Homo sapiens: one gene and its partners. The protein of the gene in region 1 purifies or fractionates together with the protein of each later gene. This does not show direct contact. Each region holds a gene or a part of one and is shown in the gene's direction. Other genes may lie near its edges. The genes, in order: PGM5, UTRN, GPI and TALDO1.

Evidence for each region.
Region 2: the proteins of PGM5 (region 1) and UTRN purify together in Homo sapiens (affinity purification with western blotting, with the first as the bait; one study listed by BioGRID). This does not show direct contact.
Region 3: the proteins of PGM5 (region 1) and GPI fractionate together in Homo sapiens (co-fractionation; one large-scale study listed by BioGRID). This does not show direct contact.
Region 4: the proteins of PGM5 (region 1) and TALDO1 fractionate together in Homo sapiens (co-fractionation; one large-scale study listed by BioGRID). This does not show direct contact.

Annotation. Positions count from the first base shown.
Region 1 is NC_000009.12:68,527,040-68,531,698, forward strand, and holds the end of PGM5 (phosphoglucomutase-like protein 5), read left to right. Parts: intron 1-2,527; coding exon 2,528-2,617; 3' UTR 2,618-4,022; downstream 4,023-4,659. UniProt on the Homo sapiens protein: Component of adherens-type cell-cell and cell-matrix junctions. Has no phosphoglucomutase activity in vitro.
Region 2 is NC_000006.12:144,287,941-144,292,148, forward strand, and holds part of UTRN (utrophin), read left to right. Parts: exon of another isoform or gene 1-14; intron 15-3,796; 5' UTR 3,797-3,888; coding exon 3,889-3,967; intron 3,968-4,208.
Region 3 is NC_000019.10:34,374,950-34,379,157, forward strand, and holds part of GPI (glucose-6-phosphate isomerase), read left to right. Parts: intron 1-2,553; coding exon 2,554-2,637; intron 2,638-2,785; coding exon 2,786-2,932; intron 2,933-3,984; coding exon 3,985-4,056; intron 4,057-4,208. UniProt on the Homo sapiens protein: In the cytoplasm, catalyzes the conversion of glucose-6-phosphate to fructose-6-phosphate, the second step in glycolysis, and the reverse reaction during gluconeogenesis.
Region 4 is NC_000011.10:753,421-757,628, forward strand, and holds part of TALDO1 (transaldolase), read left to right. Parts: intron 1-2,458; coding exon 2,459-2,582; intron 2,583-4,208. UniProt on the Homo sapiens protein: Catalyzes the rate-limiting step of the non-oxidative phase in the pentose phosphate pathway. Catalyzes the reversible conversion of sedheptulose-7-phosphate and D-glyceraldehyde 3-phosphate into erythrose-4-phosphate and beta-D-fructose 6-phosphate.

The DNA of each region.
Region 1 (4,659 bases):
GCTACGGACGTGAGTCAGGATGTTTTACTGAAGAAGTGGAAAGCACGCGTTAGTTTGTAGAGTTAAGTGGAGATCAGAAAAGAGAACTTCTCTGGTGTTTACAGTATTTGTTAAAACTTGCTTCCCCGCCCTTTTGCCAATAGGTACCACCACTTAAAGATGTGGAGTCAAAAAATCTTGAAATTTACAATGATGTAAAACTGAATATGTTTTAATCCTTTAGTTCCGTAAGGTTCAAATTCATTTTCATTGCATTTTCTTAAAATAATAGGATAGTATATGTTTATCTTTATTCACCCTCTAAAACCTCAGCTAAAGTGATTGAGTTTAACTTCACTCTCTTTTTCTGTCTGAGTTTAACTTCTTTGATAGGTGTTAATGAAGAATTACATAACCAAAAAGGGGGAGCAGGAAAGAGGGAAGAGAAGACAGGAAGAGGAGCAAAAACTAATAATTGAATTTCTGTACAAAATGGGCACTTTGCTCCTAAAGAATAGAGATCCCTCTATCTTGGCATCACATGGGATATGTCCTGGCAAAATGTGCCAGTGTAAAATGTTTCTGGGCACCAACAGGGTTATTAAGAGGAAAAGAATCCCTTCTGTTTTTACGAATCAAGATGATCAACACGGAACCGGAGGAAAGTGCCACTTTCTTGTGTTCTAGATTTTCATTTTTCTTCCAGCTTCCAGGAGTCTATGTGAGCTTGTCCATCTAGCCATCTTCATAGAGTAAGATAATTTAATACATGTAACCATAAATTGCTGCCAGATCAATATTTCCAAAGCACAGCTGTGATGTCACCTTTCAGCCCAAAACACTTCAATGCCTCCCCTTGCCTAATGAATTAAAACCTTACACCTCACTCTAGCATTTAGGTCCCTCCCAACAAGACTGGCTCACATCTCTCAGGATTCTTCTGTATCTACATGCCACTCAGGACACAATGGATTGCTTGTGATGTCTTGTACCTTGTGCATTTCCTTGTGTTCCTGTTGTGTGGATTGGAATGTGTGCACTCCCTTTATGCATGGGAATAGGTTAGGGCCCACAAGGAACTGAATTCCTCTCCCCCTCCCAAAATGCAAGCCTTCTTTTCCTGAATTACAGAATTTTTGTTTCTTCCATTATCCTAATATTACCCAAACTTCTTTTCTATCAGTATCTCTATATTAATAGGTGTCTTTATTTTTTATTTTATTTTTATTTTTTCTTTTTAGAGACAGGCAGGGTCTCACTTTGTCACCCAGGTTGGAATGCAGTTATGCAATCATAGTTCACTGTAACCTTGAACTTCTGGGCTCAAGCCATCCTCCCATCTCAGCCTACCGAGTAGCTAGGACTATAGGCACACACCACTGCACTCAGCTAATTCTTATTTTTTGTAGAGATGCGGTCTATGTTGTTCAGGCTGGTATTAAACTCCTGGCTCAAGTGATCCTCTGCCTCAGCCTTCCAAAATATTGGGATTACAGGCATGAGCCACCACGCGTGGCCAATATTTGTCTTTAAATTGACTCACTTTGTTTTTACCTCAATCTACTTATTTATTATAAAAGTACTCTACATGGAAAAAACAATACCACTTGATAAATATAAGCACATCATGAACATGAATTCAATAAAAACATTCAGTGACATTACATTCTAGCTGGGTAACTCCTGAGGCATGCACTATCTTGGTTAAATTGTTAAAGATTGGCAGCAAACAGAGTTTCTCCTTGATGAAATCAGAAGGATTGAAGAACGGAAAATAGACTGATTTTCTCACTGTTTTATTAGCAATACCATATCCATGCACCACTGAAAATCATTGTGAGTGTTGCATGCTCCACACCTCGGAAAACAATGCCTCAATCCCATGAAACAATAAGAAAGAAATGAGTCTTCCTCCTTCTCATGTCCTTCAACTTCCCAAGAACCTATTCCTTAGGCTTCTAAAGCATGCCCACCTCCTCCAGAAAACCCACTGAGGTGCCTCATAAGCCCAGTGTTACGTAATGGGAAGGCATGATCAGTCATTTCTGCAACGTTGGCCAATGAATTGGTCTGTCATTTCAGAAACATCAGGATTGTGGGTTCTTTAAATCCATGGCCCTAGGATGAAGAATGAGCTTTTATTCTCGTGTGTGTGTGTGTGTGTGTGTGTGTGTGTGTGTGTGTGTGTGTGTGGTGAGGATGAGGGTGTAGCAGCAGAAGACTGGAGTTTTTCTGAACTCCCTTAATTCACAATGCTGTCTTCATACAGTGCTCTCATGTTTGGTAGTTGGGTTGTACATTTTCCTATTATAGATAAATTTCTTTTGAAGCTGGTTAAGACTTTGGAGATCACCTTCTCCCCCTACTCTCCTGCCCTGCCCATTCCAACTACCATTGGTGGAGGAGGAAGCAAATGTCCTGCTCATGAAGACTGCCTGTAAACAGTGAATTGGAATCTGAGTCCAGATGCTTATGGTAGAAATCCATCAGAATGCCCCAAAATGTAACTGACTTGAGTTGTTCACAGACTTTCCTTTTCCTTTTGCAGGCAGTGCTGAGCCCTCTCATAGCCATCGCACTGAAAATATCCCAGATTCATGAGAGAACTGGCCGGAGGGGACCCACTGTCATCACCTGAATAGAGGAAAGATCACTCACCAGGGCCAAAGAGAGTGCTCAGCGGGAGATGCTTCACTGATGCCTTCTTGCTACCTGTTTGTGCCTCTTATGACTTTGGAAAAACAAAAGATATTTTGCTTTTGGGGGATAGAGGGTGGGTGGGAAAAGAAAAAAAATCCATTTGGTTTTGGTTTTGTCCTATTCCTCCAAATGCAGCAGGGCCTTTAGTTGTCTGTTAAAGCTGCACTATAATTTGGTATCTACATTTTATCACACAAAGGAACCTCCCCTTTTGACAACAACTGGGCTAGGCAGCTGTTAATCACAACATTTGTGCATCACTTGTGCCAAGTGAGAAAATGTTCTAAAATCACAAGAGAGAACAGTGCCAGAATGAAACTGACCCTAAGTCCCAGGTGCCCCTGGGCAGGCAGAAGGAGACACTCCCAGCATGGAGGAGGGTTTATCTTTTCATCCTAGGTCAGGTCTACAATGGGGGAAGGTTTTATTATAGAACTCCCAACAGCCCACCTCACTCCTGCCACCCACCCGATGGCCCTGCCTCCCCCATCCCATCCCCAACATCCCTGTACCACCTTCTCTCACATCTTCTAAAGCTTTGTACAAATCACAATGGTGCACTTCCAACAAAATATATCAATAGGTGTTTTCCTCTCTTATTTTGTAAATAGTATTATTTTAGCTATTAAGCTGGATACCTTCTTTCAAATTCAGCCATTCAGTTGTAAAGTTGGGAAGAAGTTTCTTGACAAGACTCTGCAATTAAATGCTTAAAATTTGGAGGGGATCCTTCCTTGATTACATCAAGTATGTTGGTACATGGGTTTATACAAGTTCCTCTTGAGAAGGCAAAAAGACCACCATGTGTGAGAGCTCTTTGACTTGGCCAATAGGGGCCTATCTTAATGCACTTGTTTGGACACATTTCTGATCTTATTTGTAAAGGCTGCAAAAGGAGAGGATGAAATGCTGTAAAAGTAGGAAATGAAGTGGAAGCTGGAAGAAAATGTAATTGGTGGTACAGCTATGGGCCAGATGGTGGAGGGGAGGGTGGGGACCCCTGCCGGCAAGCAGAGTGTCACAGCTGGCTTTCCTCACTTGGGAAAAGGGTACTGCCGGTCTAGCAGCCTCCTCTGTACTCAGCCAGGACACCCAGCGCGTGGGACCTGTTTGTGTCTGTTTTGCTTCCTTGGGAACGGCACAGTCACTCACCCTGCCATTTGCGGAAATGACCTGGTGCACTTTGACTGTTAAGCAATGCGTTATTGCTGTAGTCAAGGTTAGTGCAAGCAAGGAAACATTCCCAGTAAGGTATTTGTTTCCATTTTCTGTCTGTGCTTCTGTCAGAAACTTGCTAGGACATTTAGTGGCCAATAAAAAAGAAATTCCTAATTTCAACCTTATCCAAGGATTGTGGGTTTTTACTTATTTGTTTGTCTCACCAGTTGAGAAACTCCAGTACTGGTCACCTATCCTGATAAATCTGCCTTTCAGAAAACCTGCAAGGGCTGTTTTTCACTATTATGGCAAGAGACATGTATTAAATGGAACAGAAAAGGTAAGTTACTCAAAACTGCCTTTGGGAGTCAGCAGAAACTGAAATGGCATCTAGACCTCCACTGTAACTGTCTTCATTTCAAAATAATAGGAAGGTGGCTTTGAGCTGAGATTCTAAAACAAAACCATTTCAAGATTGATCACCAGTGGAATCAAATTCATGTCATAGCTTTGGTTCTCAGGTTCTTGTCTCAAGAGTGGACATCTATGCTAGCCATCCATGTGTTCATTAATCACGGATGTCTTGGTTGGGACGCTCAGATGTATTCTTAGGTGTATCAGCTCTAGGTAAGAAAATATTTATTTTCTCAAGTTGCTGAACTTTTAATGATCTCTAACTTGTAAGTTCATATGTAAATTAGTCCTTACATAAAAATTATATTTCTTTATTTTGATATGGAGTCATGCGTGGACAGTAGCCCAAATATATATTTAGCCATCAGTCCATCCATTCATCCATCTATGTGTTCATTCATTCATTCT
Region 2 (4,208 bases), on another chromosome or scaffold:
AGATGGTGTTCCCTCCATTTTATAGGTGTGGAAGACGGAGGGTCACACTGGGATGCATTGTTCGTGGTGAAACTTTGATTCTGTCTCCTGAGAACCAAAGATTCTGCATTTGGCAATTAGAAGGAGTCATCCTTTGCCTTAAGTGTACTCAAATTCCTCTGGCCATTAATGGCAAGTAACCTCAGTGGCTATCACTATTTAAATAGCCTTCTGTTATTCTTCTTTCTCCCCATTTTCCTCTGTACTCTGATCACCTTTTCTGCTGTATCTTTGCAACCTGTAAGGGATTTTCATTATCAAGAAGAGAAAAATTTGAAAAATCACCTTGAGGAGAGTGGCAAGTGAAACATTATAGTGAAGAAGTGTTACTGATAATGGGCAAATGGAATAAAGTAGTGTGTAAACAGTTGACTTTTCTCTTTTATGGGTGAATAAAGGCTTTGGGTAGCATAGAAGTGGAGATCTTGGCTAAGACCAATAGTGAAGAAAAGCATTAGACTTACTGCTCCAAAGTGATACACTGTAGTTCTTTCCAGGAAAGAGAATTTTTCCCTGGGCAAACTTAATTTTCCATGATAAACTTTTATAGACATTCTTCTGAACAAAGTTTTTGATTCTTGAATATAATAAAATACACTTAAGAATTTAGCAAATCCTTTATAGTTATGTACTTGAATGAAAGAATGTAATCATATAATAATCCATAAATTTTTAGCAGTAGTAGAGCCTATAAAAAATGAAAAAAGTTTTTTAGACTCTCATAAAATCTGTCAGATTGATGATCCAATCCTTTATATCCAACTCTCTCTCTCTCTCTTTTTTTTTTTTTTTTTTTTGAGATGGAGTCTCACCCACTCGGTCGTCAAGGCTGGAGTGCAGTGGCAGCGATCTTGGCCCACTGCAACCTTTACCTCCTGAGTTCAATCAATTCCCCTGCCTCAGCCTCCTGAGTAGCTGGGATTACAGGTGTTTGCCACCATGCCTGGCTAATTTTTATATTTTTAGTAGAGACAGGGTTTCGCCATGTTGGCCAGGCTGGTCTCAAACTCTTGACCTCAAGTGTTAGCCAGGTTGGTCTTGAACTCTGGACCTCAAGTGATCTGCCTGCCTCAGCCTCCCAAAGAGCTGGGATTACAGGCATGAGCCACCATGCTGGGCCCAACTCTCTTTTTGTCATCTCCGCTTATATAACTCAGAGGCATTTCAAGCTCTGCAAATCCAAATCACATTGATGATTCCTTTCTCCCAGCCTGCTATCCTCAGTGTTGCCCAGCTCAATGACTCACACTTCACCTAATTGCCTAAGCCAAAATTGGGGAGTCATTTTGCACATTTTGCACATTGGATATGAATCTCTCATATCCAATCAATTCCCAAATCCTATTGACTTTCTTTGATATCTAAATATCCCACATATTCACCCATTTCTTTCTATCTACTCTTGTTTAGACCACACTTGTTTCCTGCATATAATATTACAATAGAAAGAATAGCACAATAAACACCCAGATGTCCTTTTTATTTTATTTTATTTTATTATTTAAAATTTTTATTTACATGGAGTAGAGACAAGGTCTCACCATGTTGCCTAGGCTGATCTCAAACTTCTGGGCTCAAGTAATCCTCTCGCTTAAGCTTCCCAAAGTACTGGGATTACAGGTGTGAGCCACCTCGCCTAGACCCAGATGCCCTTTAACAAGTTTTCCCACTTACTTTATTTTTTTTGAGATGGAATTTTGCCCTTGTCACCCAGGCTGGAGAGTAATAGCACAATTTCGGCTCACTGTAACCACCGCCTCCTGGATTCAAGTGATTCTCCTGCCTCAGCCTCCCAAGTAGCTGGGATTACAGGCACCTGCCACCACACCCAGCTAATTTTTGTATTTTTTTTTAAGTAGAGATGGGGTTTCACCATGTTGGCCAGGCTGGTCTCGAACTCCTGAACTCAGGTGATGCACCTGCCTTGGCTTCCCAAAGTGCTGGGATTACAGGCGTGAGCCACCTTGCCCGGCCTAGTTTTCCCACTTATTTTACAATACTTACTGCATTTTTCTGTCTGTCTGTGTGTATGCATATATACATCTACATACATATATCAACCTAAATATACCTATATCAGTATAGACAGATATATGCTATTCTGTTTGAACTTAAGTTGAAGATACCATCACACTTCATTGCTAAATATTTCACCACATGTCTCTTACAATCAAAGACATTCTCCTGCAACAATACCATAATTAATGTTAAAGAAATTTAACATTGATACAATAATATTGTCTAATACATAGTCCAAATTCAGATTTTTCAAATGATCCTCAAATGTTTTATTTTAAAATTCTGAATTCAATCAAAGATTACATTTCATTGTCATGTCTATTTAGTCTCCTTTAATTCACAAAGCTCCCCCTCTCCCAGGTAATTTTGGTTTTCAAGACGCTGACAGTTTTGAAGAAACCAGGCCATTTCTTTTGAAAACTAGCCACAGTCTAGATTTGTCTGCTCATGAGAAGATTCACGTTCAACATCTTGGCAAGGATATTGTGTAGATGATGTGGTGATTTTCCATTCAATTGCATGATGCCCCATGATTGGTTATGTGAATTTTGATCACTTGGTTAAGATTAGGAATTTTTCCCCAACATATTACTATGAAAAAATTCTCAGACATACAGAAGAGTTGCAAGAAATTTTCATTCAGCATTCATATACCCATGAGCTAGGTTCCTTAATTTGCATTTTGCTATATTCTGCCATAGTCTTCACTGGTTCCCCACATATTACTGTGGTCTACCTACAAGCCACAATCGTCTTTTTTTTTTTTTTTTTTTTTTTTTTTTTGAGATGGAGTCTCACTCTCGTTGCCCAGGGTGGAGTGCAGTGGCGTGATCTCAGCTCACTGCAACTTCCACCTCCCAGGTTCAAGCAATTCTCCTGCATTAGCCTCCTGAGTAGCTGGGATTACAGGTGCACACCACCATGCCTGGCTAATTTTTTTTTTTTTTTTGTATTTTTAGTAGAGACAGGGTTTCACTGTGCTGGCCAGGCTGGTCTCGAACTCCTGACCTCGTGATCCACCTGCCTCGGCCTCCCAAAGTGCTGGGATTACAGGCATGAGCCACCGTGCCCGTCCCTTGACGATCTTTTAAAAAGGCCAATTTGACCATGTTGGTTCCCTCCTTCGAACCATCTACTGGCTCCCCATTGCTCTTCAGATAAAGACACAAACCCTTGACCTGTTCTCCATGGTCCTATCCCTGGTCCTGCCCAGCTTCTTCACCTGGTTCAACAGGTACACTTGTCTCTTGGCTGTCTTCTTTCCAGAAACACTGGCTTGTGCTCCATTCTTTGACTGCTCCATGATTCTTTCTGCCACTTCACATAGGAAGCTCTTACCTTTTCTCTTTCTGTTTCCCTTTTTGGCTAATTAAATTCTTGTCATCTTTAAAGGCTTGGCTCAAATGTCTCTTCAAGAAAGCCTTCTCTAATTGCCCAGGGCAGGTCAGACTCCTCTGCTGTGTGCTCTTAATACTCTGTGCTTCTCCTTTGTATGATTTGTAGTCTGTCAGTATTGTAATGAAATAATTCATTATGTAATTAATTGCTTAGTGTGCATAAGCGCCGTAATGGCAGAGGCTATGTCTCTTGTTCATAGTCATAACACCATTGCCTGGCTTGGTGCTTTACACGTGGTAGGCACTCAATAAATATTTGGTGAATGAATAGTTACTACGAATAACTATATAAAATATATAAATACATTTTTTCAAGTCAGTACTTTCCCTTTTCCTTTTAGGTATTGATGTCAAGCTGAACCATCGTAGGAAGTTGAAAGCCTTAGAAAGAGGACTTGGTAAAGTTTTTGGATTATCTTGAAACTCTGGCAAGATGGCCAAGTATGGAGAACATGAAGCCAGTCCTGACAATGGGCAGAACGAATTCAGTGATATCATTAAGTCCAGATCTGGTAGGTAAAGGAAGCTCAAGAAAGCTATGGATTTTTATGTATTTAGAAAACCTATGTTTCTTGGATTGATTTGCATTGTTCTTGCAAGAACTTCTTGGAGGTGAAGTTCTTTTAAGAAACTGAATTCTGACAAATGACTATAATTTTGTAAAAGGTATATGTAAAAGGTATAATATCTCTGAGTGTCCTATCCTTTCTCAACCCAATTTTGTGCTTAGTGAAACTGCTGCTTGTAGCTAAA
Region 3 (4,208 bases), on another chromosome or scaffold:
ACTCTTGGCCTCAAGTGATCCTCCTGCCTCAGTTTCCCAGTAAGTGCTGGGATTATAGGCATGAGCCACTGAGTCCGGCCTGCATATTTAGGTTTTTATTATGACCACACTGTACTTCTGATACCAAAATCTGTATTAGTTATCTATCATTGTATAACAAATGACATCAAAACTTGGGTTAAAACAGCAATACACTTTTTTTTTTTTTTTTAAGACGGAGTCTTGCTCTGTCGCCCAGGCTAGAGTGCAATGGCGTGATCTCCACTCACTGCAACCTCTGCCTCCTGGATTTAAGCAATTCTCCTGCCTCAGCCTCCCGAGTAGCTGAGATTACAGGCACACGCCACCATGCCTGGATAATTTTTGTATTTTTTTTTTTTAGCAGAGACGGGGTTTCACCATGTTGACTAGGCTGGTCTCGAACTCCTGACCTTGTGATCTGCCTGCCTTGGTCTCCCAAAGTGCCAGGATTACAGGTGTGAGCCACCATGCCCGGCCTAGCAGTAAACTTTTATTACCTCTCACAGTGTCTGTGGGTCAGAAGTTTGGGAGCGGCTTAGCTGGTTGGTCTTGGTTTGGGGATCTCTCATAAGGCTGTAGTCAACATGTTGGCCAGCGCCCCAGTTATCGGAAGTTTTGATGGGTTTGGAGGACCCCCCTCTAAAGTGTCCCATACACAGGAAGCGAGTTGGCTGTGACTTTTGGAAAAAGGCCTTAGTTCGCTGCCGCGTGGGCTTCTTTATGAAACTGTTTGAATGTCTTCACAACATGATAGACAGCTTCCCCAAAGCGAGTCATCCAAGAGAGCAAAGCAGAAACTGCACGTTCTCTGAACTCACTTCTGAAGTCACATTTCACCCCTTTTTGCAGTCTCTGGATGGGTGCATAGGTCACCCCTCCCAGCACAGGCGGAAGCTATGCAGAGGCATGAATTCCAGGAAGCAAGGATCACTGGTGTCTGATTGGAGACTGGCTGCGGGTCTGATACTCCTTTCCCCAGCATAGCCCAGTCACAGTTTTCAACATTTCACATCTCTTGGTCTCTGGCATAGCAGATTCTGCCGAGTTATCCCTGGTTTTGCAAATTCTGACAGTGTCGCTGTAAGGTAGGGATGTCTCACTGTTGTAACCAGGAAAGAGTCTAGTTGGTGGTGAGTGTGGCAGGGACCAGTGTGGTCTCCAGAGACTCCTATGCCTTGTGTAGTGGCTCACGCCTGTAATCCCAACACTTTGGGAGGTCAAGATGGGAGGATTATTTGAGGCCAGGAGTTAGAGACCAGGCTGGGCAACGTAGCAAGACGCTGTCTCTACAAAAAATAAAATAGGCTTTGCGTGGTGGCTCATGCCTGTAATCCAAGCGCTTTGGGAGGCCGAGGCAGGTGGATCACCTGAGGTCAGGAGTTTGAGACCAGCGTGGCCAACACGGCGAAACCCCATCTCTACTGGAAATACTAAAAATTAGCTGGGCAGGGTGGCAGGTGCCTGTAATCCCAGCTACTTGGGAGGCTGAGGCAGGAGAATTGCTTGAACCCTGGAGCCTGGAGGCGGAGGCTGCAGTGAGCTGAGATCGTGCCGTTGTACTCCAGCCTGGGCGACGGAGTGAGACCCTGTCTCAAAAAAAAAAAAAAAAAGGCTAAAGCAGAGCATTTTGTTCTGTTTTTGGAGTCAGGGTCTTCCTCTGTCACCTAGGCTGGAGGTGCAGTGTTGCGATCTTGGCTTGCTGCAGCCTCAACTTCCTGGACTCAAGCAATCCTCCTGTCTCAGCCTTGAGCCACCCTGCCTGGCCCCTAAGGCACAGTTTTAAAAATAAGTAAATAGCGAGGCGCGGTGGCTCACACCTGTAATTCCAGCACTTTGGGAGGCCGAGCTGGGCAGATCACTTGAGGCCAGTAATTCGAGACCAGCCTGGCCAACATGGCAAAACCTCGTCCCTACTAAAAATACAAAAAAATTAGCTAGGCATGCTGGTGGCGCAGGCTTGTAGTCCCAGCTACTCAGGAGACTGAGGCATGAGAATTGTTAGAACCCAGAAAGTGGAGACTCTGTCTCAAAAAAAAAATTAAAAATAAATAGCTGGGTGCGGTGGCTCAAGCCAGTAATCCCAGCACTTTGGGAGGCTGAGGCGGGCAGATCACAGGGTCAGGAGATCGAGACCATCCTGGCTAACACGGTGAAACCCTGTCTCTACTAAAAATACAAAAAACTAGCTGGGTGTGGTGGCGGGCGCCTGTAGTCCCAGCTACTCAGGAGGCTGAGGCAGGAGAATGACGTGAACCTGGGAGGCAGAGATTGCAGGGAGCCGAGATCATGCCACTGCACTCCAGCCTGGGCAACAGAGCAAGGCTTCATCTCAAAAAAAAAAAAAAAAAAAAAAAAAAAAAAAAAAAATATATATATATATATATATATGGTAAATTAAAAACAAAAAAATAGAGGCACCTGCGAGGGCCTGAAAGCTGGGACTGAGGTACCAGGACACGGCAGTAATGATGTTTTTGAGCAGCGGATTATGCCTGGGGGTTTGGGCTGATGGCATCTTCGCCCCTGTGCCAGCGTGTCCGGAGCGGTGACTGGAAGGGGTACACAGGCAAGACCATCACGGACGTCATCAACATTGGCATTGGCGGCTCCGACCTGGTGAGGAGAAAACTGCCTTGGGGTAGGGTGGGAGTCTGGGCACTGTTGGTCCCACTCAGGTCTTTACTTTCTCCAGGGATGGGACCTGGCTGTCTCCACTTTTCGTGGGCCCTGAATTCTTATTCTCTGATGCTATGTCTCCCCGCAGGGACCCCTCATGGTGACTGAAGCCCTTAAGCCATACTCTTCAGGAGGTCCCCGCGTCTGGTATGTCTCCAACATTGATGGAACTCACATTGCCAAAACCCTGGCCCAGCTGAACCCCGAGTCCTCCCTGTTCATCATTGCCTCCAAGGTATGAGTGCCGAAAACTGCCCGGCCCCTGGCCCTGTGTGTGTTGGGGTGGGGAGGGACAGCTGTCTTGCCATCCCCCTGGCCATTGGTCCCTTTTGGTGGGTTCCGAGTGAACCATGGTTTGTGGATCAGGTCAGTACAGCTGCCCTAGACTGTTTCCATGCCTAGCAGCAAATAAGGTTGACTGATGAAATCCTGAACACATCAGTTTGAACCTTTGTGTCCTGACCACACCCGCTCGCCTTGCGGCATCTCTGCTCAGCCTGGGACTGCTCGCCACTTTCTTACAAACCTGTCCTTTATGCCTGCTCCTTTTCTTGTTGTTGTTTTTGAGACAGAGTCTGGCTCTGTCACCCAGGCTGGAGTGTAGTGGCGTGATCTCGGCTCACTGCAATCTCCGTCTCCCAGGTTTCAAGCGATTCTCCTGCCTCAGCCTCCCAAGTAGCTGGGACTAGGCACACACCACCACGCCTGGCTAATTTTATTATTTATTTATTTATTATTATTATTTTTTAGTAGAGATGGGCTTTTGCCATGTTGGCCATGCTGGTCTTGAACTCCTGACCTCAGGTGATGCACCCCCCCTTGGCCTCCCAAAGTGCTGGGATTACAGTCTTGAGCCGCCATGCCCAGCCATGCTTGCTCCTTTCTGATCCCAGAGCCATGCCCTGATAATAGAGGGGTTTTGTTTGTTTTTATTTATGTTCTATTTACTCACATGAATGTACATAAAATATGAAGAATTCCATCTGAATTCTGAGATACCTTCCAGCCTGGGCCGAAGAGAGCCTCAGGTTGACTGCAGCCCCTCAGGGGAGAAGCTGCGGCCTTTGACCTGCAGGCTTAGGGTTGGGGGGTGTGTTTACCGTCCCCCCTCCTCTGGTTTTAAAGAGCTGGAATCTCAGGAGGTTATGTGGCGTCACTGTCACTGACCTGCAAATACTGCTCCATGGGACAGCTGGGCATTGCCTTGGCCTCTACTGCTGAACCCTGGCTCAAGGCCTGCACCCACCCCTAAGCTCGGGCGCCCACTGCTGTTCTCTTTGGTTGCAGACCTTTACTACCCAGGAGACCATCACGAATGCAGAGACGGCGAAGGAGTGGTTTCTCCAGGCGGCCAAGGATGTGAGTGGGCTATAGGGCCTTCCTCGTGGTTAGCCTCTGGGCTGGGAAGAGCAGGGTGGGCCCCTGAGTGACCAAGTCTGGCCGTGTTTCTCCTGAAGTTGGAAGTGAAGGCGGCCTTGCCGGTGCCTGCCTTTGCTAGATGAGATGATTGT
Region 4 (4,208 bases), on another chromosome or scaffold:
CTCGGGAGGCTGAGGCAGGAGAATGGCGTGAACCCGGGAGGCAGAGCTTGCAGTGAGCCGAGATGGCGCCACTGCAGTCCGGCGTGGGTGAAAGAGCGAGACTCCGTCTCAAAAAAATAAAAATACAAATACAAAAAAAAAAACACAAAAAACCATAGCCTGGCGTGGTGGCTCGTGCCTGTAATCCCAGCTACTCATGGGGCTGAGGCAGGAGAATTACTTGAACCTGGGAGTTGGAGGTTGCAGTGAGCTGAGCTTGCGCCACTGCACTCCAGCCTGGGCAACAGTGCAAGACTCCGTCTCGGAAAAAAATAAAAAATAAATACAAGTACAAAAATTAGCCAGGCATCATGGTGTGAGCCTGTAGTCCCAGCTACTGAGGACGCTGAGGTAGGAGAATCACTTGAACCCTGGAGGAGGAGGTTGCAGTGAGGCGAGATCATTTTACTGCACTCCAGCCTGGATGACAGAGTGAGACTCTGTGTCAGAAAAAAAAAAAAAGCTACTCAGTGGCTACAAGTTTGGACGTTTTGAACTGTTTAGTTGGTTACTCTGAAGAAAAAAACTTTTTTATTTTTTTTTGCAACAGAGTCTTGCTCCATTGCCCAGGCTGTAGTGCAGTGGCACAATCTCGGCTCACTGCAACCTCCACCTCCCGGGTCCAAGTGATTTTCCTGCCACAGCCTCCCGAGTAGCTGGGATTATAGGCATGCACCACCACGCCTGGCTAATTTTTATATTTTTAGTAGGGACAGGGTTTCGCCGTGTTAGCCAGGCTGGTCTCGAACTCCTGACCTCAAGTGATCCACCCCCGTTGGCCTCCCAAAGTGCTGGGATTACAGGTGTGAGCCACTGTGCCCAGCCACTGAGTAGCATTTTATGACTGGGTTGATTAAAGCAGAGAATGTCAGCTTTATAAAAGGGACCACCAGTACAATTTGAACAAAAACTTGGGACATTGTCAAAGTTGTCCACTCCGACTAAAAGGATTCTTAGGTCAGGTTTTGTCAAGTTACCTGCAGAAGCTACTGAATGCGATATTTATTTATTTGTTTGCTTATTTATTTATGAAACAGAGTCTCACTCTGTCACCCAGGCTGGAGTGCAGTGGTGCAATCTCAGCTCATTGCAACCTCCACCTCCTGGGTTCAAGCGATTCTCTTGCCTCAGCCTCCTGAGTAGCTGGGATTACGGGCATGTGTCACCACACCCAGCTCATTTTTGTATTTTTAGTAGAGACTGGGTTTCACCATTTTGGCCAGGCTGGTTTCAAACTCCTGACCTCAGGCGATCCACCAGCCTCAGCCTCCCAAAATGCTGGGATTACAGGCATGAGCCACTGCACCCGGCCTGAATTTATTTTTTTAAGAGATAGGGTCTTGCTCTCTGGCCCAGGTGGGAGTGTAGTGGCATGATCATGGCTCACTGCAGTCTCAACCTCCTGGGCTCAAGCGATCCTCCTGCCTCAGCCTCTTGAGTAGCTGACGCTACAGGCATGCACTACCACACCTGGCTAATTTAGTCTTTCTATGAAACCTAAAAAGAATGATTGGTGAGTGATAGCAGTGGATAAAATTAGTCTTAAAGTTGCAGCAGTGCGGTTCAGCAACTATTAGATAAACTGGTTTCAGGTTAGAGGCCGCTTCAGCAACTAGGCTTGCAGGTAATAATTTTTGGAGCAATGCTGTGTGTCCTGAGTGCTTTTCCCCTTGGCCTTTTTTTTTTTTTTTTTTTTTTTTTTTGAGATGGAGTCTCACTCTGTCACCCATGCTGGAGTGCAGTGGCGCGATCTCGGCTCACTGCAAGCTCCGCCTACTGGATTCAAGCCATTCTCCTGCCTCAGCCTCCCGAGTAGCTGGGACTACAGGTGCCGACCACCACACCCAGCTAGTTTTTTGTATTTTTAGTAGAGACGGGGTTTCACCGTGTTAGCCAGGATGGTCTTGATCTCCTGACCTCGTGATCCACCCGCTTCAGCCTCCCAAAGTGCTGGGATTACAGGCGTGGGCCGCCGCGCCCAGCTCCCCTTGGCTTCTTGACTCTGTTGCAGCTGGGTATGGTGATAATGACCCAGTCCATAAGATCAGCGTTCACATGTGGCTCATGACTAGACCGCGCGCCTCCTTGTGGTGGTACGGCAGTGGGATGCACATTTTCCTTTGACCAGCGTTCTCCCAGCTGTCGCACCGCTCACTCCCATGCTGTTACAGGTCACCTCTTGCAGGGGCATATTTGATCGCTGGGCACTTAGTGTTTGTTGTTCCATCATTATGCAAACAGCCGCCTCTTGATGAACCTTCAGTGACCCAGAAGAAGGTGTGAGAAGTGTGGCTGGACCCCGCTTTCGGAAATGCTCTGGACTCCCCTAACGTCCTGGGGAATTACAGGGTTCCTTCACATGTTTCCAGTTGGAAGCAAGTACTCCACTTACTTTGGCTTTTGAAAACTATTTCCCTAGCCATCGACGAGTACAAGCCCCAGGATGCTACCACCAACCCGTCCCTGATCCTGGCCGCAGCACAGATGCCCGCTTACCAGGAGCTGGTGGAGGAGGCGATTGCCTATGGCCGGAAGCTGGGCGGGTGAGTGCCTGGACTCGGGAGGGTCCCAGCTAGGCCCTCGTGCTAGTCTAGTTGGCCTTGCTTCCCTCCCTAACTGAATTTTAGTTCTCAAACACCATGAACTCAAGGGGGGAAAAAAACCCTATCTTTTTGCCTATTTTTGTTTATTGAAGTGTAATCTGCATGAAGTAACCTGCACCTGTGGTAAATGAGCAGTTCAGAGAGTTTTGCCAATGTGTGTACCCTGTAAATACCACCCCAGTCAAGATGCAGAGCACTTGCAGACCCCCACAGGCCCCTCCTCCCCTCCTGTAGTCAGTCTCCCCAGCTCTGGTAACACTTACCTTCTGGCTGTCATTTTATTTTTTACTTTTCAGACGGAGTCTCGCTGTGTCACCCAGGCTGGAGTATAGTGGAGCAATCTTGGCTCACTACAACTTCCGCCTCCCTGGTGCAAGCAATTCTCCTGCCTCAGCTTCCCAATTAGCTGGGCTTACAGGTGTGTGCCACCACTCCTGGCTCATTTTTGTATTTTTTTTTTTTTTTTTTTTGAGACAGAGTTTTGCTTTTGTTGTCCAGGCTGGAGTGCACTGGCACAATCTCGGCTCACCGCAACCTCTGCCTCCCAGATTCAAGCGATTCTCCTGCCTCAGCCTGCCGAGCAGCTGGGATTACAGGCATGCGCCATCACACCTGGCTATAATTTTTGTATTTTTGGTGGAGACAGGGTTTCACCATGTTGGCCAGGCCGGTCTCGAACTTCTTACCTCAAGTGATCCACCTGCCTTGGCCTCCCACAGTGCTCGGATTACAGACGTGAGCCACCGTGCCTGGCTTTTTAATTTTTTAATAGCTTTTATAACTCCCAGAATGTTCTCTGGTACCTGTTTGCAGTAGCTCCCCACTCCCTTACCCAACCAAGCAACTGTAGAGCCCTCTTCATGCCTGTGGCTTTGCATATTTTAGATGTCATTTTAGATTCTCTTCAGGGTAATAATTCAAAGCTTGAAGATGGTGCCGAGCAGGCAACGTGGGCACCACACAGGAGCAGGTCCCTCTCTGGTACTGGCTTTGCTTAGGTCCAGGTGGCTGGTGAGTGGCTCCCCTGACCATGTTGTGACAGCCACTCTGGACACTGAGTCTGACCCTCTCCTCTCTCTTCTTAGCTCCCTTTTCCTCATCTCGTGGTGTTGCACCCCTGTGGCATCAGTGAGGCCTTGGTGCTCCTGTTATTGGGTGACATTGGTGCCTTTGCTTGGCTGGGTGATCAACAGATGAGCCCTGCACCCATGTCCAGATGGCCCCAAATTTTTTTTTTTTTTTTTTTTTGAGATAGAGTTTGGCTCTGTCACCTAGGCTGGAGTGCAGTGTCACAATCTCAGCTCACTGCAGCCTCTACATCCTAGGCTCAAGCCAGCCTCCCACCTCAGCCTCCCAAGTAGCTGGGACTACAGGTGCACGCCACCACACCTGGCTAATATTTGTATTTGTTTTTAGAGGCAGGGTTTCACCATGTTGCCCTAGCTGGTTTCGAACTCCTGAGCTTGAGCAGTCTGCCCACCTTGGCCTGCCAGGGTGCTGTGATTACAGGCGTGAGCCACTGCACCCAGTCTGGCCCAAGAATTCTAACCTCTGAGCGTCTAGCTG